Linked DNA regions of Homo sapiens: region 1 is reported to be linked to region 2. Evidence: microRNA targets listed by miRTarBase, many of them from high-throughput screens and not tested one by one. Region 2 holds a microRNA gene; the other region holds the end of a gene's coding sequence.
The links. The annotated mature microRNA hsa-miR-4517 reads AAAUAUGAUGAAACUCACAGCUGAG and lies in region 2 at 6,552-6,576, shown strand. An mRNA with a match to its seed (bases 2 to 7 or 8) in the 3' UTR can be bound and repressed. Matches are read on the target gene's strand: a 7mer-m8 pairs with bases 2 to 8, a 7mer-A1 pairs with bases 2 to 7 and ends in A, and an 8mer does both.

Region 1 (11,460 bases), not on the chromosome of region 2:
GGAATATTCAAGGTTCTGTGAGAGCATAAAGGACAGAGGAATTCTACCTGGGAGAGCCCAGGAAGGATTCTCAGAGGTGACAGTTGAGTGGGCCTTGAGGGATGAGTAAGAGTTTGCCAGGCTGAGGACACAATAGTAGAATGTAAGAGGGGAGCACAAGGAGCAGGAAGATCTTCCAGACAGAGGCAGCCTCCATTGCATATCACTTTGGATTTCTCTTTTGCGCTCCACGTCCTTCTTTGTTAATTGGAGTCAGGCCAGAATTCCTTGTAGAGCTCTGGCCCCTAATTTGACCCACACAGGAAGTTTTGGATTTCTTCCTCTCCTAATCGAAAAAATTATCTATCCTGCTTGGAGCTCTCTGGTGCTAGGACTTCCTATCACAGAGAACAAGGCTGTCACTCCACAAGTTGAGAGAAGGTCAACAGTCCTATCTCCTGGGAAATAAAATATACATGGACCCTAAATTCATACTAGAGTGCTGATGACTGACACAAAATACTTTCTTGTGCATAGGTCAGAAAATGAAGAGAGCAGGACGACTCTGGAAATGTGTGTTTATGTTTAGGTGCCAGTATGTAAGGGGACAGTAGTTAGCAAGAGCCTCTGGCAGGGGTGGGAAAGAACCCAAGCAGAAAGATAGAGAGTATTAGAGAGCAACTTTCCAGTCCTGTCCAGGGAAACCCAGCTTGTCACCACCTAGCACCGAGGCCCAGAGGGAGCCTGGTATCACTGGAGCCTTCTTACCTCCCTGCTGCCCTCAACATCCCGCCCCCAGGCGCCCTGGGAGCTGGTTGCCATCTCTAGTGGGGTGCTGACAGAAATGAGGTCCCTAATCAATTTTCCAGGGGGGCAGTGTCATCCCCTCAGGGGAAGAGCGGGTCCTGGGGCAGACAGCGGGATGCTGCCGGGGTGTTGGAAGGGGGCTGATTGTGACTCCTGTTCCCTGGTACTGTGGCTGCCTGGCATGGTGAGAGGATAGCACAGACTGGTCTCTCGGCAGCCTAACTAGGAGGGAGGCCCCAGGAGCAGCTTTGCTGTGGTGGCAGCCCTGGTGGTGGTGGTGGTCGTCGTGGTAGTGGCACAGCTCTGCCTCCCATGGCAGCTTAGGAGCCACCACCCCAGGGAGGGTCACTGTGGCAACAGCTACTCTGGGAACAGATCCTCCGGGCCTCTGAGGCTGGCCCCTGGTCTTCTCGAGGGGCAGCTGGCAGGCCTGTGCCGGGCGTGGGGAGGAGGCAGGGCACCTGTCTCTGAGCCAAGCCTCTGGGGCCCCAGGGCTGAGGCAAGGAGGAAAGGTGGTGTTTGTTTTCCTTTGTTTGCTATGAACATTTGATCACTGATGCTGGATTTGGAGTTAATCGTCCTTGGATCAGGGGCTCAATATGAGGAGCTGAGGGGAGGGGAGCTGAGGGGAGTCTCTAGGGATCTCAGGGATGGAGCTGGGCCTCAGGTTAAGGAATCCTGGGCTCTCGTCCCTGCAGAAGTCTCTTCAGGAGCAGTCTCTCCTGCTCCGGGCAGCCTGGGGTCTGAGCTGAGTTCAGGGTGCCCTTGGTGTCAGTGGCAGGCTGGAGGAACCCTGCTGTCCCACCTAAGGCTGGGGCAGGCCTGGGAGGCTCCGAGTCCAGGAAGACTGGAAGGAGTGGGGTAGGGTGCTGGCTTGAGGTGGACACCGGGCCAGGGTTCTCTTTCCCCGTTTCCCACTCCCTGACCTCACTTCCCTCCCTCTGCTTCTTCACTCTTCATCAACCCCTTTGCCCCTCCCTCCTCTTCCTCTTTCCTTCTTTCTCACTCTTCCTTCTTACTCATTGCTTCCTTTCTCACCATATCCTTCATTCACTTCAACATTTCGCTGAGCACCTACTCTGCATGGACCACTAAGCTAGGCCCTCGAGTGGGAGCTGGGATGAACCAGCACCTCTGAGCAACTCGCCACTGTGGGAAGGGGAATTTGACAAGTACCAAAAAGTACCAGGTAGAAAATGGTAGGTTCTAAAAGGAAGAGAGAGGAAGGGCTATGGGAACTCTCTCTCCAAGGCTTCCTCATTATTCTGACAGTTTCTCAGGCAGGAAATGCATAATGTAAAAAGAAGAGCGTTCATGTTATTCCCCAAGGACTCCCAGGAATGCCCTAGAAATGAGGTGCAAAAGCCAGCTGGAGACAGCTTGCGAGGAATAAGAGAGGATGGAGTTCAGCAGCTGCTCATGCCAGGCCTATCTCCAGCCCATTCATTCATTTGTTCATAAAATATTTACCGAGCCCCTATAGGCCCTAGCAACTTACAGGGAAGCAGGCAATACACAATTCATAGTTACAAAGGACTGTAAGTACCATGAAGAAAATGCACTGGCTGCAGTGATGGAAACTGACAGAGGCAGAGGGGCGTGGATGTGTGAGGGGAAAACGCCTCACCAAGAAAGTGAAATTTACAGCCAGGCCTTCTCAGCCAAGAGAAGGAGGTGGGGTGGGGCTGGACTGGGGTGAAGTGGTCCCCGTGAGGGAAAAGCAAGTGGAAAAACACTGAAGGTGAGAGAGCTGGGGATGTGTGGGAAACTGACAGGAAAGTGAGCTGCTGGTCTCAGGGGCTGAGAGCAGGGGCATGAATAGGTCTGCGGAGGCAGGAAGGCCATGAGGAGCAGCAGGGCATCACAGGCCCTCCTAAGGAGTCTGGATTGTACACGAAGTGGGAACCCAGCCATTGACAGGGTTCTAAGCAGGGGTGACATGATCTGATCCAGTTTCCATTTTAAGAAGCTCTCTCTCTGGTGACTGGGTGGAGACTGGTGGCAGAAGGGCAGATGGGACCCAGGGAGACCTGGGAGGAGGCTCCTGCAGAGCTAGAAATGTAGAACTTGGTAATAGGTTGGAATACGGGTGGGAGATATTTTTTATCTATTGGTCTTCTGGCCTCTCTCCCTGATTAGAATGTAAGTCCCATGAGGGCAGGGATCCTGTTGGTCTTGTTCACCATTGTTTCCCTGAGGACAGAGTTCACAGGTGTTTAATAAAGATTTAATGCACGAAAAATGAGTGAGTGAATTAAGGAATGAGAGGGTGGTTTTGACAACATCTATCTCAGCCTCAAGGTGAATGGTGGCAGCACGCTGAGGGGGACCAGGGAGGCAGAAGGGTGGGATCACAGCTCGGCATCAGGGAGCTGTGAAGACACCCAGGCACTGCCACGCAGGTGTGTCTGTGAGCAGGGAGTGCATGGGGAAGGGAGTGTCTGTTTGGGTCCCTATTGTACACCCAGGTTGTAGAGCAGTACCTGGGACAGAGATGCCACATATGTTTGCTGAATGAATGAACAAATGAATGAATGGAGCTGACGGGATTTCTGAACTGGAACTACACAAGTGGATGACACCAGTACCTGGAAGATGTTTAAGGCAATGGGAGGGGATGAGGTCACCCAGGAAAGAGTATGTGAGGAGAGAAAGGGAGCAAGCCCTAGCCCCCACCAGCAACCAGAGGTTGCTCATTTCAGAAGCAGAGGCCCTAACTCAGCCCCAAGGGGAAGCCTACATTTCTGTAGACTCGTATTTGATGGCTATAGCATATGCTTGCTAACCACTGCTCTTCTAGGGATCCCTGGAGAAGCAGGCAAGTAAGAGCGGGGAGTGGAGAAGCCCCCATAACCTGTGGGGAAAGAAAGGAGAGGCTTCCAGTGCCAACATCAGAAGGCCTCTGACCTCTTTGACTTGCAGCTGTAGCCGTTTGGCTCCCTCTCCTCACCCCCTAAAGCTGGGTCGGAGACAGCCTTGTCCCCAGAGTCCCCAGCGGCTCTTTAGCATGATGCTGCATTTTGAATGCGGTTACCACAGCCCCAAGTGACTGAGCCAGCTCACGTGCTACCTCTTGTGTGGGTACCAGTGTATGCACACACAGGGCTTGGAGCCAGGAACGGAAAGAAAGTGCTCACTGCAATAATGCCACAGGAGCCCCACGAGGGTGGGCACTGGATGGCATCACAACCCAGGCCCAGGACACTCCCCTCGCTCCAGACTAGAGGAGACACAGATGTCTCTCTGCCCTGCCCTATATCCCTGATGGGCTGGGAAGAGGCAGAGAAGAATTTAAGGAAAATCTTGCTAGGAAAGGAGTTCATCTGAACCCCATCTGAATACCTGTGTTCTGGACCTGCCTCCACCACTAACTAGCTGTGTGTGCCACGTGAGTCAGAAAGTCTTAGGATTGGAAACAGTCTTCTAATTCCACCTCCCACGCCGAGCAGAAATACTTCCCACGAACCCTGGTGCAGCACATGATCATCCACTGTGTCTCCAAACATTTTCAGGGAAGGGAACTTCACTACCCCGCAGGGAAACCCATTTTGATTTGGTAATTTTGTTAGAAAGTTTTTTTTTTTTCCAAAAAGCCTGGGAGGACCCACACCAGATGTTAACCATGTCACCTCTGGGGAGGAAAGTGGGACTGAGGAAGGGTGACAGGGGATTCCCTGTTGATTTGGTATGGGGATGGTTTCCAATACCTTGTATTAAATAAATGTTTGTTTGAGACAGGGTCTCGTTCTGTCGCCCAGGCTGGAGTGCAGTGGTATGATCATAGCTCACTGCAGCCTCAACCTCCTGGGCTCAAGAAATCCTCCCGAGAAGCTGGGGCTACAGGCACATGCCATCACACCTGGCTAATTTTTCTTTTTCTTTTTTTTTGTGTAGAGATGGGGTCTCACTATGTTATCCAGGCTGGTCTCAAACTTCTGGCCTCAAGCAATCCACTCTCCTCAGCTTCCCAAAGTGTTAGGATTACAGGCATGAGCCACCATGACTGGCAGTAATAAATTTATAATAGCAAGGGAAACAACAGAAAATAAGGTTCTTATATATACCTACTATGTACCCACAAAAATTACAAATCAAAAATTTCATTAAAAAAAGATTTTTTAAAATTTAAACCCAATCTGCCCTCCTAACATTTCCACCTATTATTTCCGGATCTGCTCTCTGCAATCAGAGAAGAATCTAAACCCACTTCCCCACAGGTACCCTTTAAACACCTGGTAGTTGGGATCAGGTTTCCAAGACTTCTCCAGCTTGAGCCACTCCTCATGTAACTTGGGTTCCAGAGCAGTCCTACCCCCACTTACCCACTTCTGTGCGTCAGAGAATAAAACTCCAGTGGGGTCGCAGAGGGAAGGAACCAAGCAGTCACTGAGCTGGGTGTTGCCTGCTGCTAATTAATGAATGAATCCCAAGAGGACATTCCTCCTCGCTTTATGTGTGTGTGGGGTGGGGTACATACACGTAAAAGGGAGAGTGAGTTTAATGATTCACTTCTCCAAGCCTTGGTTTCTTATCTGTAAAAGGGGAAAACAATACCTTTGCTATGAGAATCAATTGCAGTTAAGGAAATAACACTAAAAGCACAAACTCCTACACTGGAGGTTATGACTCACAAGCCCCACTCAGTTCAGAGAGTGGCTAAGCATTGGACCCACAGAGCCAGACTGAGTTTGAATCCCAGCTTTGCTACTTAATGGCTGTGTGACTTTGGAGAAATGACCTGACATTGTTGTGTTGGTTTTCTCCTCGTAAAACAAAGGTAAGGATAACATCAATCTTGGAATGCATCTTTATAAGCATGAAATGTACTGCCCAGCACTCAATAAATGTTCGCTGTTAGGTATAATCATCCCCTCTTATTCCTTCACAAGGAGATAAGGACTAAGGACTTCAGTGAAATGAGGCTGATTCACTGAAAAGTGAGGTCATCAAACCAAACTGGTCATCTGTTACTGGAGTGAGTTGCCCCAAAATACTCCCCTCTCCCTCTAGCAATGGTTATGTGCTAGGCACTGTGCGCGAGGCTTTACAGGCGCCGACTCATTTCTCCTCATGGCTCAATGAGAGAGACACGGCCTCAGGCAGATACTACATTTAAAAGATGAGGAAATAGACGTTCACAGAGGCTGAGTAACTTGCCCAGGGTCACACAACAAGGAAGTGATGGAGTCAGGACTCAAACCCAAGTCTGCCTGACTTCAAAAGTCTGTCTTATTCTTTTAAACAATGTCCTGTTCTTTTAACCAGCTCCCTACCTTGGGCTCGACTCCAGCTTTGGGGAACAGGAGGAAGCCAGAGCCCTTTCTTCCTTGACAGCACGGCCTGCTGTTTCTGTGAGGTGGGGAGGAGGGGCAGTCTGCTGCTTCTCTCGTCCACCCCTCCACCCTCCTGCACACTGCCCCCTCCTCTTCCAGCAGCCTGAAACGGTCACTGGGGACCCCAGTTGCCACCCCTTCAGTCCCCTCAGGACCACTCTGGCATCTAGTACCCCTGCTGCTGGCTGGGTTCTCAGCCCCTGACCATGAAATGGTTCCACATCGATCTACAGAAAAAACAGCCACTTTGGCCGTGGGCCCTGATGCGTAATATCATTATGGAGTCAGCAGCGCATCCCGTCCCATTATCGCCTGGCCAAGCTTTTCCAAGGCCAGCCTGGCTGCAAATGGCTTTCTCCTGTCTAGGGGGGCCACAGCCACTGTTTGCCCTCCACTACCGGAGGAGAAATTTTATCTTTAATTGACACTGGCTGCCTGCCACCCCCTTGCCTCGGCTGGCCCAGGCTCCAAGCCCGATCTTTCCTTACACTTCAGGAACAGGCTTCCCCTGGCTTCTTCCCTCTCCTCGGCCATTCCGTCCTCACCCTGCTGTTCTACACTGCCCAAGACAGCTCCCGGGTGTGTTCTTGTCCTTTCTTGGTGCAGCTGGACACGGAGATCTCAGAAGTCTGTGGAGAAAAGTCTGAGAGTGACAGGAACAGGGCAGGGAGGGAGCTGACACTGTGCCGCTACTATATGTCATATCACAGGTAGACACATGACACCAGGCCAGGCTCTTCACTCTGTCTCTGAAACAGGGGCCATCATTATTCCCTAACAAACAGGGAAACCATTTCGGTGAGTCACCCCCAAGTCACCCAGCTAGCAAGCAGCAAAGCAAGACTTTGAATTGAGGCCCCTATGGTCCTACACAGATGCCCAGAGTAAGAGTGAGGAGTAAGACAAGAATAAGGAGAGGCAAGCAGGCAACCAGACCCGCCAGAGCCTGGTGCAAGATGGAAACGCAGGGCCCCTGTTCAACCATTATTAATTTCATGATGGTGACAGCCAAGCATTAAACCCAGCATGGGGCCCTTCTGAGTGGCTGCACAGGTTGCACACCCATGAAGCTGGCCCTGCGTGTGCCCCTATGTGAACGTGAGAGGGATAACAACAGTGAGAGCCAAGGGCCACGTCTGACCATCACTCACCATCTCCCCGTCCTATCCAGGCCCAGGATGTGTTCACTCTCCATCCCTAAGTGGTCCCCAGTTGTGCCACCAGTCTCTAGTTGGCCTCAGTTCATCAGCCATCCAGCCAATAACTTTGGCGTCCCCAGGGTCTTGGCCCATTTAGAACTGGTACAATTGCAGGGAGGAGGGGAGGCCCCCTGCACAAACGGAATGCAGTGGAATTCCTTAAACAAAGAACAGTCTTTTCTTCCATGTTATGGCAGGGGCTTGGGGACAGCAGTGGATATTAGAACACTGTTTGGGTCTCGGGGTCCTGGGTTAGTCCTCTTTGTGTGGCTTTGGGCAGATGACTTGCCCTCTCTGAGCACTAGTCTCTCCCTGTAAAATGCAGGGGTCAGGCCACACTGATGATTCCTGCTGGAGTGGGGTTATGCTGAGTGTGTGCACTCCTCAGGTGTCAGGGGTGAGAGCCCCAGGAGGTCCCAATAGACACAGAGCCAGAAAGGAGAGGCAGAGGCAGGTGCTCACACAGCAGGAGCAGCAGGATGCTCCAGATGTCTTTATTGGGGCTCGAGCACAGCATGACAGTTGGAGGCATGCAGACAGGGCACAGGGCCCAGCCTGGGCATGCCCCAGACACACACGAGGGGACAGCTTTAGAAAAGGACTGACCAACACCAGGGAGGAGCAGGGAGGGAGGGCCAAGGGAGGGGCAGAGGCCAAGGCTGAAGGGGTCACCTGGCCTCTGCTATTGCACGCATCCTCTGGCCACTGACCAGGAAGTACAGTATTGCAACTGGTCTCCTCTTGCCCAAGGCTTCCCTTCTCGGACCCCCTGGGCCAGATGGGCAGACAGATCCTTTCCCTGCCTGTCTGCCCAGCAGCATCTTTGACAACAAACAGACAAAGGAGAGAGAACAAAATCAAATCTAAAAAAGACAAAATGCCCCCCTAAGTCAAGGACATAGATGGGGTGGAGGAAGTAGTGGAGGAGGCTGCAGAGGAGCCCCTGGAAGTCCCCCCACAACGAGGATGTGGGGTGGGAGGTAGAACCCCAATCTGGGGTGGGGTGCGGCTAGTGAAGCAGTGACCCTAGGGGGCAGTCTGGCCTTCAATAGACTTCACCAGGTTACTTGCTGACAGGGGAAACATCCCCAAGACAGGAGCCTGGGACTACCCAGCTGGACTGGCAATTCCCAGATGCACTTTTCTTGGGACATTCCACCCACACAGTCAGCAGAAACAACAGAAATCAGTGAAGGGGACGGGAAACTCTGGGTGGGGCAAGGGCTTAGGGAGACACAGCCTAACAAAGAAGACAAACCACCAATAGCACGTGCACTACACACAAGAGTATAATATGTATGAATATAGATACTATATGTGCATATATATCTCTTCGATGTACAATGGAACAGAACATCAGACCCAGATGGCTCTGGGCCCCGAGGGTCGCATGGGAGATTTTCCACCAGTCCTGTGCAAACAAGGATATCTGAGTCTTTCCCAGCGAAAAGATTCTTGTCTGGGTTCCAGAGTTTCCCTAAGCCTCTGGCTTTCTGTCTGTCTGCCTGTCTCTCTCACGTTGGTGCCGCTTTAAGAGAGGGTGAGGACTTCAGCCTGGGCATAGTTGGACGAGAGGGCGTCTTGGCAGGTCTCTGTGTTTAAAGAGCACAGGTGTGAGACACTGGGACGCACGCTTTCGGCTCAACATTGCCTTCTGGGGTTGGGGGGACAGGGAGTTCAGCAAAAGAAAGGGAGAAACAAAGAATGAGACGTTAGAAGGAAGCCAGCTGCTGACCCACAGGGTGTGGGCTAAGGAGTAGACCAGGAGCAGAGCTGGAAGGCATGAGGAACCCAGGGCTAAAAGGCCAGGAAGAGCATGGATGGGTCAGGGAATGGGGTGAACCCTTCACCCCTCTGCCAACCCAACTCTGGTGACTCAGGTGATGTTGTAGCTCATCGCCATACCTGTTCAGGTAACCACTAGCTCCAGGAACCACTAGCCTCTTAGGTCTTCAAAGCTCCAGTGCAGTGGAGAAAGGGACCATAGCTCTGCAGCCTTGCATGGAGGCAGTGGGGAAAGTTCCTGATGTGGCCTGTGGCTCACAGGCCATCACCCCAGCTGTTGCCTGACCAACTTGAGCTCTCCCCCAAGTAGCTCCATCTGCTGTCACCACCCTGGGATATTCCATTGTCCCAAGGAGCTGGTGAAGAAGGCTCCTGAGTATGATGCCATGTCGTGCCCAGCCCCCTTCCTCAATGTGGCAGGAACAGAGTCCCAGCAGTTGGAGGGCATGCAGCCTCAGGTGAATGCTGAAGGGGAAGGTCACGGAGGACGAATGTGCCTGTCTCAGGAGAGAAGGTCAGGAAATAGTACCTTATTGAGAAACCCAACCCCTCAGAGAGCCCTTTTGGGATCCCACCCTCAGCCTGGGATGTCTACCACCTGGGCCTTTCCTTCCCCTACCTTACCAGTGGGAGCACAGGTAGGGCAGGTAGGAGTACTGCTGTCCCAGCTGCAGATCTGGGTCAACAGTGGAGGTGGGAGTTCCAGACCCGCTGGGACAACCCCTGCAGCTCTCGGGTCTGAGGTCTAGGGCTAGGCCTCCTGTCAAGGTGGAGTGCAGATGTGGCATCCAGACCTCACAGCTTCCATCCTGGGCTTCGGGGTGCCTCCATCACCTTTCTAGGGAAGGGGTGTCCTCATCTTGGGGTGATGCTGTTTCCATCTTCTTAAGACTGTATGCCCCAGCCACCTCCTTAAACACTGCCCCTTTGCCTACAAGTGTTCTGGGCCTCTGAGTACTATCCTTGAAATCAGAGGAATTCAGGGTTCTTCAGAGCCCCATTTCTGAGGACACGCAGACAGAGCTGTGGTCTTGCCCTGTACTCCTGTCTGCGTAACTTAAGCAACACCTGCCACTGATCCCCACTCATTAGGGGACAGGGAAGTGCCTCTGGGCTCCCAGTAGGCAATTAGGCCCTAAGATGCACCGGTGAGAATGCCTGGGCTACTGAGGGGTCTAGGATGGGTCTAGGATGAGACAGAAGGAGTCACAGCAAGGCTGTCAAGTGTCCCAGAAGCCAGGGAGCAGAGCAGCCCATACTGAGATAATGGCCTTAGATTGCTTTTCCACTGGCTTCCATGGACTCTCCATCCTCAGGGACCTCTGAGAGTTGGGGAGGGGTCTTCCTAGGAATCTCATCCTGGATTCTTACCTATTTGACCCACCAGGGGTGGGGCAGGGATTTCAGAGGGTGACGCTGGCCAGAGCAGAGCAGGCCCTCCTCTCCCAGGAAGCTCTGTGAAAGGGCAGCCTGGGCCCTGCAGCCAGTCCATGGCCTCCCCTCTGGCTCCTGTCAGCCAGCTTCTAGGTTGCAGTGCCCTTCCTTCTGGTTCTACCTCTCAGAAGCCCTGAAAATTGGTCTCTAGGTTGCCAGTAACCCTGCTACAGACTGGAAGGCGAGGTTGTGAACTCCTACCCAGACTGCCTCCCAGTTCTGTGGGAAGGGGCTGAGCTCCAGCTGCAGGGGAAAGGCATCTGACAACAAAGTAGTGGGTGCAGGTCCAAGTCTAGCCCAAGGAAAACAAACTCTACTCTCAGATGGTGGGTGGGAGAGAGCCTTCTCTCAAGGAGGGAGGCTCAAGGCCTGGGTGAGCCTGACGCCTGTACAGGCAGCCACTTCCTGTGGCAGTGCCTGGTATGCAGGGGTTCTGCAAATGCCTGGGCTCACCCTGCCCTTTCCCAGGGCCCTGGGCAGGCCCAGAGGTGCTGAGAGGTTGTAAGGGCAGACAGTCTACTCAGCCCTCCTGCTATCTGGGTTCTATCTCTCCCAGATGAAGCCAGAGAGCCAGGAGGGATGTGTGGGAGCCAGCTCCCCGAGGCATTAGGGCTCCAGCCTGGCAATGCTGCATCTTGTCGCCCAGGGACATCTGTGCCCACCGTAGGGGTGCCATGAGCCAGACCCAGCCCTGTGGGAGGGAAGAGAGGGAAGGAGGCGGTGGGTGCCGTGGAAACTTGGGCTCCTGACAACTTGAGGGCTGCCACAGAAATAGCGGCCTCGGTTCCCTGAACCAGAAAGGCAAGTCAGAGGAGAAAACAGTGGTGGCATCCCTGTGAACCTGCACACCCGGCTCGTTGTGTCCCTGTCAGAGCCCAGGCCCTCCATGCCAGGGAGTCCTCTCGCTGTTGGGGGAGGGGCCC
Region 2 (11,460 bases):
TTGGGAGCTGGGTGTCAGGGAAGAATTACCCCCAATTTTTTCTTTCGGTAGGGGAAGGACTTGGGCCTGACCCCTCTCCCTTCTTTGTCTTTGCAGGTTAAAAGCAGCCTTCGCCTTATCCCAGATGATCTATCCCTCCTGAAACTCTACCCTCCAGGGGATGAGGAAGGTAAGGGAGGGCCTCCAGGGAGAGGCACGCAGCCGCTGGCTTCTCTTAAGAGAATTCCTGGGGTTTATATTCCTGCAGTCAGTTGTCTCCTGAGGCTCAAGGGAAGAGCGTGGGAGAGGGGACTCCTGCATCCCAGCCACAGGAGCTGGATTGTTAACAAGCATAGAATGTATTAATGTATACATTTCTGGTGCCACCTGAAGAGATGCTGATTCTGTAGTCCTGGGCGGGGCAGGAGGCGGTAAGGTGTTGAGAATCTGTGACATCTTGTTACATCTGCAGCAAGTTCTTTGGGAACACTGGAGCCAGCAGGGTGTTCTCTGAATCTTATCAGGGATGCCCTGTCTTTGTCCTCCCCCACTGATGCATTTTTTGCAAACAACTCAAGGGCGGGGAATAGGAATCTAGTCTAATAAGGAAATAATCCAGTGGGCAAATGGAGACCTTGGACCAAGACTCTTGTACCATGAGGGAGTACAGTGGGGTGATTAAAAGCAAACAGGAGCCATCTGGCCTGGGTTTGAATCTCAGTTCTCTCTTTTTTTTTTTTTTTTTTAGACAGAGTTTCGCTTTTGTTGCCCAAGCTGGAGTGCAATGGCACGATCTCGGCTCGCTGCAACCTCCACCTCCTGGGTTCAAGCGATTCTCCTGCCTCAGCCTTCCCAGTAGCTGACTAATTCCCACCACGCCTGGCTAATTTTTTGTATTTTTAATAGAGATGGGGTTTCACCATGTTGGCCTGGCTGGTCTTGAACTCCTGACCTCAGGTGATCCGCCCATCTTAGCTTCCCAAATTGCTGGGATTACAGGCGTGAGCCACTGTGCCCGGCCTCAGCTCTATCTCTTAATAGCTGTGTGATCTTAGGCGAGTTTCTTTTTTCTTGTTTTGAGACAGAGTCTCACTCTGTCACCCAGGGTGGAGTGTAGTGGCGCAATCTTAGCTCACTGCAACCTCCATCTCCCAGGTTGAAGCCATTCTCCTGCCTCAGCCTCCCGAGTAGCAGGGATTACAGGCGCCCGCCACCATGTCTGGCTTTTTTGTATTTTTAGTAGAGATGGGGTTTCATCATGTTGGCCAGGCTGATCTCGAACTCCTGACCTTAGGTGATCTGTCTGCCTTGGTCACCCAAAGTGCTGGGATTACAGGCGTGAGCCACCACGCCCAGCCTGGGCAAGTTTCTTAATTTCTCAGTGCTTCAATTTCCTCATTATCAAAGTGGGGATAATAGTAGACCCCATTTTGGTGCTGATTTTGGTGAGAATTAACGAAAGGGAATATAGAGAGAGCTGCCTCTTGGCTAGATATATGCTTTAGGACAGTACCTAGGACACAGAAGTGCTACGTAAAAGGTACCTCTATCCCTGATACTCAAAACGTGGGCCCAGCCATATATGGCATCCGTTGGAAGCTTGCTAGAAATGCAGGATCGGCTGGGCACAATGGCTCAAAGTGCTGTAATCCCAGCACTTTGGGAGGCTGAGATGGGAGGATTGCTTGAGCCCAGGAGTTCGAGACCAGCCTGCGCAACATGATGAGACCCTGTTTCTACAGAAAAATAAAAAATTAACCAGGCATGGTGATGTGTACTTGTAGTCCTAGCTACTCAGGAGGCTGAGGTGGGAGAAACACCTGAGCCCAGGAAGTCGAGGCTGCAGTGAGCCATGATCATGCCACTGCACTCCAACCTGGGTGACACAGTAGGACCTGGTCTCAAAAAAAAAAAAAGAAAAACGAAATGCAGAATCATAGGCCTCTTGCAGCTGCCATAGTTAGTTAGGACAGGATTTCATGACTTCAGCATTACTGGCATTTTTTGGACTGGAAAATTCTTTGGTGTTGGAAACTGTCCTGTGCATTGTAGAAAGTTTAGCGGCATCCTGACTTCCATCCCTGGGAAGTATTATACCTCAGCCCCCTCGCCCTCCACATTTTGATAACCAATATTGTCTCTAAACATTGCTATATGTCCCCGCAGAGGCAAAATTGTCCCTGGTTCAGAGCCACTGATCTAGGGTTTCTTATCATTTTTTAATTTTCACAGTATTTATTTTTGTGGTTTGTGATGATCTTTTATTGACAGCGGGCAAATAGAAATTTCTATATTATAGAAAATAATACCTGGTTTCCTTTCATGAGAAATTTAAGTTAATTTTAAGTTAATATGAGCTATCTTTATACTAAATAGCAGTCTCATCCCCTGCCCCCTTTCCCAATATTATCATGTGGCCCTGTGTGTGCCAGGGGCTCCGTGGTCTCCTCCTTTCCTAGGACCTTCTTGAAGCCTCTGACTTGTTTCTTCTTGGCCTTCGCTGGCCTCCCTTGGATAACCCCCTTCTACCTTCTCTTCCTCTGCCCCCAGAGGCAGAGCTGGCAGATTCGAGTGGTCTCTACCATGAGGGCTCCCCATCACCAGGCTCTCCCTGGAAGACAAAGCTGAGGACTAAGGATAAAGAAGAGAAGAAAAAGACAGAGTTTCTGTGAGTGAGGCCAGGGCCCTTGGGCCCTGGGAGCAGGAAGTGAGTTGGAGGGGTAAGCGGAGGCAGGCAGGACTCTTGGGTGACTCCTGAAAGGTTAAGAAGAAGGGATAGAAGGACTGTTGAGTTTCATGTGGGGAATGAATCGCTTGGGGAAAAGAGGTGGCTTACCCCGGAGGGTGACAGTGAACCCTTCAGGATCACCCTTGGGAGTGGATTCTGAGACCCTAGTAATGTGAGCTTAAGGTATGGTTCCAATCCAGCTTCCCTGTCCTCTCTGTGCTTCTCTTTCTTCATCTATAAAACCCCGTTTTATAGCCTGGGAAACATAGAGAGACCCTGTCTCTACAAAAAATAAAAAAAAATTAGCCTGGCATGGTGGCGCATGCCTGTGATCCCAGCTGCTCGGGAGGCTGAGATGGGAAAATCGCTTGATCCCAGGAGTTAGAGGCTGCAGTGAGCCATGATCGTGCCACTATACTCCAGCCTGGGTGACAGAGTGAGACCCTGTCTCTAAAAAGCAAACAAACAGACAGACAAAAAATACCCCCAAACCTGGGGATAATAGTGGCATTTGTGTCAATGAATTGCTGAGTCAATCAAGAGTTAACACTTGGCTAGGCACAATGGCTCTTGCCTGTAATCCCAGCACTTTGGGACGCCAAGGGGAGTGAATCACTTGAGCCCAGGAGTTCAAGACCAGCCTGGGCAACACTGGACATATGGTAAGTGCTTGCCGTCTGTCGGATATTATTGGACATTTTCCTGGGAAGTGACAGTCTCAAAAATGAGGCATTTTCTTCCCTAATATTCAGGTCATGTAAATATAAAAATGATGCCTCAGGCTTTCCCTCTCCCCTACCCCTGCCTTCCAGTGAAATGGGGGTTATTGGAAGCTGCTTCCTCTTTATTTTTTAAATGTATTTTTACATTTTTAGAGATAGGGCCTCACTCCATTGCCCAGGCTGGAGTGCAGTGGCGTGATCATAGCTTACTGCAGCCTCAAATTCCTGGGTTCAAGCGACCCTCCCACCTCAGCCTCCTGAGTAGCTGGGACTACAGCTGTGTTCTACTATGCCTGGCTAATTATGTAGAAATAGGGTCTCCCCATCTTGCCCAGCCTGGTCTTGGACTCCTGGGCTCGAGCGATCCTCCTGGCTCAGCCTCCAAAAGTGCTGGGATTACAGGTGTGAGCCATTGCGTCCGACTATGCTTGATTGTCCAAGGATCTGATTTCTAGGATTTGTGGGGCCAGTCTCTCTCCATTGCCTCCGTCCTGCTGTCTCTTGCTTCTACAGGGATCTGGACAACTCTCCTCTGTCCCCACCTTCACCAAGGACCAAAAGCAGAACGCATACTCGGGCACTCAAGAAGTTAAGGTGCCAAGTGCAGGGGCTCTGGCTGGGATGGAAGAGGGCAATCCGGGAGGGTGGCTGACTCCAGTTGACCCAGAGTCCTGTCTGCACTGCAGTGAGGTGAACAAGCGCCTCCAGGATCTCCGTTCCTGTCTGAGCCCCAAGCCACCTCAGGGTCAAGAGCAACAGGGCCAAGAGGATGAAGTGGTCTTGGTGGAAGGGCCCACCCTCCCAGAGACCCCCCGACTCTTCCCACTCAAAATCCGTTGCCGGGCTGACCTGGTCAGATTGCCCCTCAGGATGGTGAGTGCCTGAGGCCCATGGGAGAAGGACCCAGGAGCTGCTTCTGGAGAGATGGTGGTGTCCAGCAGGGGTGTCCTGGCAGAAGGGACTGTCATCCTTTTCCCATCCTGCTCTCTAGAGCTGCCCATCATTCTTTTCAGTCTGTCCTGCCTTCACACTTTTTGTTTCCTCTGTCTGCATTTTCCCAACGCTCCCCTCTCTTTCTGGCAAACTTTCTACCCATTCTTCAAGGCTCCTCATAAGCATCCTGTGTCTTTTTTTTTCCTTCAAAAAGTGGTCTTACTGTGTCCAGGCTGGTTCCGAACTCCTGGGCTCAAGTGATCGTCCCTCATTGACCTCCCAAAGTGCTGGGATTCCAGGTGTGAAGCATCCTGTCTTCTAAGAAGCTTTTTTTGGTAGTCTCTCTTGCCTTCCTCCCTAGGAACCTGGGCTTCCCTCCTGGGCTTGCTCTCACTGCCCTGGACACAGCAGATGTCACTCAGTCACCCTGAACTCCACCAGCTTCCTGGCGAAGCCTGATATTTTTGTAGGGATGACCCTGTTTCAACACCAGGAATGATAACAGACATTACCATTACTGATGCACAGTGCATCAGTCAAGCAACTAAGGCAGAGGCTGCAAACTGGCAGCCCATGGCTTTTCCAACAGTGTGTCTGCTTTCTTTGTAGACTTATTTTATTTTATTTTATTATTTTTTATTATTTTTATTTTTTGAGACGGGGTCTCACTCTGTCGCCTAGGCTGGAGTGCAGTGGCACGATCTCTGCTCACTGAAACCTCCGCCTCCCAGGTTCAGGCGATTCTCCCACCTCAGCCTCCCGAGTAGCTTGGACTACAGGTGCCCGCCACCATGCCCGACTAATTTATGTATTTTTAGTGGAGGCAGGGCTTCACCATATTGGCCAGGCTGGTCTTGAACTCCTGATCTCAAGTGTTCCCCTGTCTCAGCTTCCCAAAGTGTTGGGATTACAGGCATGAGCCACCGTGCCTGGCCTATTTTATTTTTTAAACATAGAGATGGGGGCCAGGCATGGTGGCTCATTCCTGTAATCCCAGCACTTTGGGAGGCCAAGGTGAGAGGATCACTTGAGGCCAGGAGTTCGAGACCAGCCTGGGCAAAATAGTGAGACCTTGTCTCTACTAAAAATAAAAAAATTAACCAGGCATGGTGGCACATACCTGTAGTCCCAGCGACTTGGGAGGCTGATGCAAGAGGATCTTCTGAGTCCAGGAGTTGGGGGCTGCAGTCAGCTGTGATCATGCCACTGCACTGCAGCCTGGGTGAGAGAGCAAGACCTTGTCTCTTAAAAAAAAAAAAAAATGGAGATGGGATCTTGCTTTGTTGCTCAGGCTGATCTTGAACTCCTGACCTCAAGCAAACCTCCCGCCTCGGCCTCTCAAAATGCTGGGATTATAGGTGTGAGCCATCATGCCTGACCAAGTGCTTTAAAAATATACGAGTTTGTTGTCACCTTTGTGATGGGTGATTTCATACAAAGGTCCAGATTTCTGGCCGGGTGCAGTGCCTCACGCCTGTAATCCCAGCACTTTTGGGAGGTGAAGGCAGGCAGATCACCTGAGGTCAGGAGTTCGAGACCAGCCTAGCCAACATGGTGAAACCCCATCTCTACTAAAAATACAAAAATTAGCTGGGCATGGTGCCACTGCCTTCCAGCCTGGATGAAAGAGCGAGACTCTGCCTCAGATCTCACCTGAGATCAGGAGTTCAAGACCAGCCTGGCCAATATGGTGAAGCCCGCCTCTACTAAAAATAGAAAGAAAAAAAAAAGGTCCAGATTTCTGGCTTCTCTTAAAAAATAAGAAGATGTGGCCAGGTGCGGTGGCTCACACCTGTTATCCCTGTAGTTTGGGAGGCCGAGGCAGGTGGATCACCCGAATTCAAGAGTTCAAGACCAGCCTGGTAGGAGAATCACTTGAACCTGGGAGGCGGAGGTTGCAGTGAGCTGAGATTGCGCCACTACACTCCATCCTGGTTAACAAGAGCGAAACTCCGTCTCAAAAAAAAAAAAAAGAAAAATATAGGAAGATGTCATACTGGCCCACGTTCCCACACAGTGCCAATCAGCTGGAGCTGCGTAACAGCCAGCCTGTCTAGGTGGCATGTGAATTCCAGTTTGCTGCAATCCCCACCACCCCTTTCTTTGTTCTAACCCATGGCTGCTATATTTCTTTGTGTTACTCGCCTGTACCCCTTGCTGACACGATTTTATTCTATACCTTGCCAGGTAAATATGATGAAACTCACAGCTGAGGAGCTTAGCAAGTAGCTAAGGCCAGAGCTTGTGTTTGGGTGGTGTGGCTGGGGGCATGGATTTCAAGGCAGGAAGACCTCTTTTGCTTGTTGTCCCCATCCCTAGTCGGAGCCCCTGCAGAGTGTGGTGGACCACATGGCCACCCACCTTGGGGTGTCCCCAAGCAGGATCCTTTTGCTTTTTGGAGAGACAGAGCTATCACCTACTGCCACTCCCAGGACCCTAAAGCTCGGAGTGGCTGACATCATTGGTGAGAGGAAGGCAGGGAGGTGGGGCCTTGAGGCATTTGCCAGGGGAAGGGGATATGGGGAGAGGTTCAGCACGGGCCCTGCTTCCAAGCCCCCACTTAGCCCTGGCTTCCTGATTCTGCCTCCCACAGACTGTGTGGTACTAACAAGTTCTCCAGAGGCCACAGAGACGTCCCAACAGCTCCAGCTCCGGGTGCAGGGAAAGGAGAAACACCAGACACTGGAAGTCTCACTGTCTCGAGTGAGTGGGAGAGATGGCTCTCCACGCCCCTCACCCTGTCCTCTGCTGCCTCTTGTCTCTCTTGTCAGTTAATGGAGGATGGATTCCCCTAATCTTGACTTGCAGGAGACACTGCCCTCCATGTTCTTGGGTTCCCAGCCATCCTAGGTAGTGGGAAAACCCATCGTTCAACTTCCCTCCCCGCTTCTACTGGTACCCTCTGCCCTAGTCTGGGTGCTCCCTCGGTCTCCTGACTCCTTCTGATTAAAACAGAAAGGACCCTTAGACGGTAATCAATAAAACCCATCAAAATAACAATGAAGGCCACACGGCTAAGTGCTAGTCCCCGTGCTGAGGATAATTTCCTCACATTCAGGATCTTATTTAATTTCACAACAATCTGATGTGGGCCACAAAGCACTGTTGTTATCCTCATTTGGCAATAAGAAGATTGAGTTCTAGAGAGGTGGAATAAGCAACTTGGTGCAGTCATTTTTTTTTTTTTTTTTTTTTTGAGATAGAGTCTCGCCCTGTCGCCCAGGCTGAAGTCTGGCATGATCTTGGCTCACTGCAGCCTCTGCCTTCCGAGTTTCAAGTGATTCTCTTTCCTCAGCCTCCCGTGTAGCTGGGATTACAGGTGCACGTGCTGGGCTAATTTTTGCATTTTTAGTAGAGACAGGGTTTCACCATGTTGGCCAGGCTGGTCTCAAACTCCTGACCTCAAGTGAGCCACCCACCTTGGCCTCCCAAAGTGTTGGGATTACAGGTGTGAGCCACCGCGCCTGGCCTGCTGCATTCATTTCTTAAGTCTACTGTTAACGAAATACACAAATTGGGTGGCTTAAAACAATAGAAACCTATTCCTGTACACTTCTGGAGCCTAGAAGTCTGAATTGAAGGTGTTGGCAGGGCCTGGTTCCGTCTGAGAATCTGAGTGGAAACCTTCCTTACCTCTTTCTAGCTTCTGCTGGTGGCCAGAGTTCCTTGGCTTGCAGCTGTGTCACTCCAGTCTCTCCCTCTGTGATCACACGGTGTTCTCCATGTGTCTCTGTCTGTGTTCGTCTCTCTTCTTGGAAAGACATAGGTCATGTTGGGCTAGCCCCACTCTAACCAAGCACAACCTCATCTCAACTTGATTATATCTGCAAAGTCCCTACTTTAAATAAGGTTACATTCACATTTACTAGGGGTTAGGACCACAAAGTGCCTTTTCAGGGGAATACAGTTCAACCCTTAACACACTGTTCTCTAGCCCCCACCAAATTCATGGCCTTCCCATCTGCAAAATATATACATCCCATTCCAATATCCCTACAAGTCTTAACCCATCCCAGCATCAACTCTTAAGCCCAAAATCTCATTTAAATATAATCAACTCAAGAAGTCCCAATCTTATTTTCTAAATCATTAAATCAGTTTTGGATGAGACTTGGTATGGTCCATTCTGGGACAAAATTCCTCTCTCTCTCTCTCTGCGGACCCGTGAAATCTAGAAAATAAGTTATTTGCTTCTAAAATACAGTGATGGGACAGACATAGGATAGACATTCCCATTTCAAAAGTGAGAAATTGGGCCAGGTGCAGTGGCTCACACCTGTAACCCCAGCACCTGTAATCCTAGCTCCCCAGGCGGCTGAGGCAGGAGGATTGCTTGAGCCTGGGAGATCAAGGTTGTAGTGAGCCATGATTGCGCCACCTTTATTGGAAACTTTTATTCCAGTTACCAATAACACATTCCTCATTTCCTCCAGAGACCTCACCAGAAACACCTTTAATATTCATATTTCTAGCAGCCTTCTGTTCATAACAATATATGCATCCTGTTAAGATGATAGGAGATTTCTCTGCACCTCTCCTCTTTGTGAGCCTGCAGGGACATTCCCTTTAATGTCCATATTTCTACCAGCAGTCTCTTCAAGGCAGTCTAGGTTTTTCCTAACATACACCTCAAAATTCTTGCAGCTTTGGCCAGGCACAGTGCCTCACATCTGTAATCCTAACACTTTGAGAGGCCAACATGGACAGATTGCTTGAGCTCAGGAGTTCAAGACCAGCCCGGGCAACATAGTGAAACCCTGCCTCTACAAAAAATACAAAAATTAGCCCAGCATGCTGGCGCAGGCCTATAGTTCCAGCTACCCAGGAGGCTGAGGTGTGAGGATCGCTTGTGCCTAGGAGATTGAGGCTGCAGTGAGCTGAGATTGGGCCACTGCACTCCAGCCTGGGAGACAGCAAGACCCTATCTGAAAAAAAAAAAAAAAAAAAAAAAAAAAAATTATTCCAGCCCTGATCCAATTTCAAAGCCACTGTTACATTTAACCATTTATTCCAGCAGCACCCCACTTTTGTATTTTGGCTGTTGTAACAAAGTACCACAAGTTGGGTGGCTTAAAACAACATAAATTTATTCTCTCATTGTTCTGGAGGGTAGAAGTCTGAAATCAAGGTGTTAGCAGAGCAAGTGTCTCTGAAGATATGGGGGAAGAAAACAAACTCAGGATTTTTTTCTTTTCTTTTGAAAAAAACAAAAAAGAGACAGGGCCAGACGTGGTGGCTCACGCCTGTAATCCCAGCACTTTGGGAGGCTGAGGTGGGCGGATCACGAGGTCAGGAGTTCAAGACCAGTCTGATCAACATGGTGAAACCCTGTCTCTACTAAAAATACAAAAAATTAGCCGGGCATGGTGGCATGCGCCTATAGTCCCAGCTACTCAGGAGGCTGAGGCAGAAGAATCGCTTGAACCTGGGAGGCGGAGGTTGCAGTGAGCCAAGATCAAGCCACTGCACTCCAGCCTGGGCGACAGAGCTAGACTTCGTCTCAAAAAAAAAAAAAAAAAAAAAAAAGACAGGGTCTTGCTCTGTTGCCCAGGCTGGAGTGCAGTGGTGCGATCTTGGCTTACCACAGCCTCAAACTCCTGGGCTCAAGCGATCCTTCTACCTCAGCCTCCTGAGTAGTTGGGACTACAGGTGTGTGCCACTACCCTTGGCTAATTTTTTAATTTTTTTTGTGTAGACGGGGTCTCACTATGTTGCCCAGGCTGGACTCAAACTCCTGGGCTCAACTGATCCTCCCACCTCTGCCTCCCAGAGTGTTGGGATTACAGGCATGAGCCACTGCACCTCGCCCCCTCCTTGGGTTTAATTTGCTAGAGCAGCTTACAGAACTCAGGGAGACACTTACTTTCATTTACTGGTTTATTATAAAGGATGTTACAAAGGATACAGATGAAGAGATGTGTAGGGCACAGCATGGGAAAAGGGCGCAGAGCTTCCATAGCTTCCCTGGGCACCATTCTCCAGGAATCACCACATGTTCAACTATTGGGAAGTTCTCCAAACCCTGTCCTCTGGATTTTTATGGAAGCTTTGTTATATAGGCATGACTGATTAAACCATGGGCTATTGGTGGTGACTCAACCTTCACTCTCTCCCTCCTTCTTGGAGGTTGAGGGGTGGGGAAAAAGTCCCAACTGTCTTATCCTACCTTGGTCTTTCTAGTGACCAGCACCATTCCTGAAGCTCTCTAGGGGCTGCCAGCCACCAGTCAACTCATTAGCATGCAAAAAGATACTTAACTCTTTCCCAGGGATTTTAGGAATTTTATACCAGGAAACATACAAAGACCAAATATATATTTGACAACATCACGCAGTCCCTCAGGGTCTCTTCATGGAATCTGCCCTGTCTCCTCCTGGCTCCTGCTGGCGGCCCACAGTCCTTGGCATTCTTGGCTTGCAGGTGCACTCCATTCTGCCTCTGTCATCACGTGTGTTCTCCCCTCATGTCTGTTTCTGTGTCTGTTCCATAAGCATACCAGTCCCAGGCTGGGTGCGGGGGCTCACGCCTGTCATCCCAGCACTTTGGGAGGCCAAAGTGGGTGGCTTATCTGAACTCAGGAAGTTTGAGACCAGCTTGGGCAACAGAGAAACTGTCTCTACCAAAAATACAAAAACTTAGCTGGGTGTGGTGGCCTGTGCCTGTAGTTGCAGCTACTCAGGAGGCTGAGGCAGGAGAATTGCTTGAACCCAGGAGGCAGAGGTTGCAGTGAGTTGTCTACCAGTCCCACGGCATTAGCACTCGTCCCAATCCAGTACAACCTCAACTTGATTGCATCTGCAAAGGCCCCGTCTCCAAATCACATCACATTCACACTTAACAGGGGTTAAGACCACAAGGTGTCTTCTCTGGGGAACATAACCTGTAACATTTTTCTAAGGTCACATATCTAATAGGTGGGAGAGCCTGGCCTCCAGCTCGACTCATCCTCACTCTAGAATCTGGGCTCTCTTAGTCATTGGTACACACTTCTGTTTCATAGGGAAGGAGGCTGAGGCTAGGAGGACTTGCCTGACTTAGAGCCTATACCCCTAAGCCTTGGGCTCGTGGCCCCCGTCCTCTACCTGAGCAACTTGGAGC

Region 1: miRTarBase lists KCNC4 as a target of hsa-miR-4517. Seed matches in the 3' UTR shown: 7mer-A1 at 8,609-8,615.

The regions. Positions count from the first base shown.
Region 1 is chr1:110,230,361-110,241,820 of GRCh38, reverse strand. KCNC4 (potassium voltage-gated channel subfamily C member 4) reads right to left here. Exons shown (of 4, transcript NM_001039574.3): 4 at 7,777-8,910. The coding sequence ends at 8,849. Among named protein-coding and RNA genes, the nearest start is that of KCNC4, 26 kb to the right of the region's middle. RefSeq lists a silencer at 5,277-5,386 and enhancers at 5,898-6,398, 6,399-6,899.
Region 2 is chr16:28,952,036-28,963,495 of GRCh38, forward strand. It overlaps MIR4517 (microRNA 4517), which reads left to right and starts at 6,548; the gene lies at 6,548-6,626. NFATC2IP (nuclear factor of activated T cells 2 interacting protein) reads left to right here. Exons shown (of 8, transcript NM_032815.4): 2 at 97-169; 3 at 2,530-2,647; 4 at 3,943-4,023; 5 at 4,116-4,302; 6 at 6,682-6,826; 7 at 6,956-7,065. NFATC2IP-AS1 (NFATC2IP antisense RNA 1) reads right to left here. Exons shown (of 2, transcript NR_186408.1): 2 at 867-2,963. RefSeq lists a silencer at 10,272-10,480.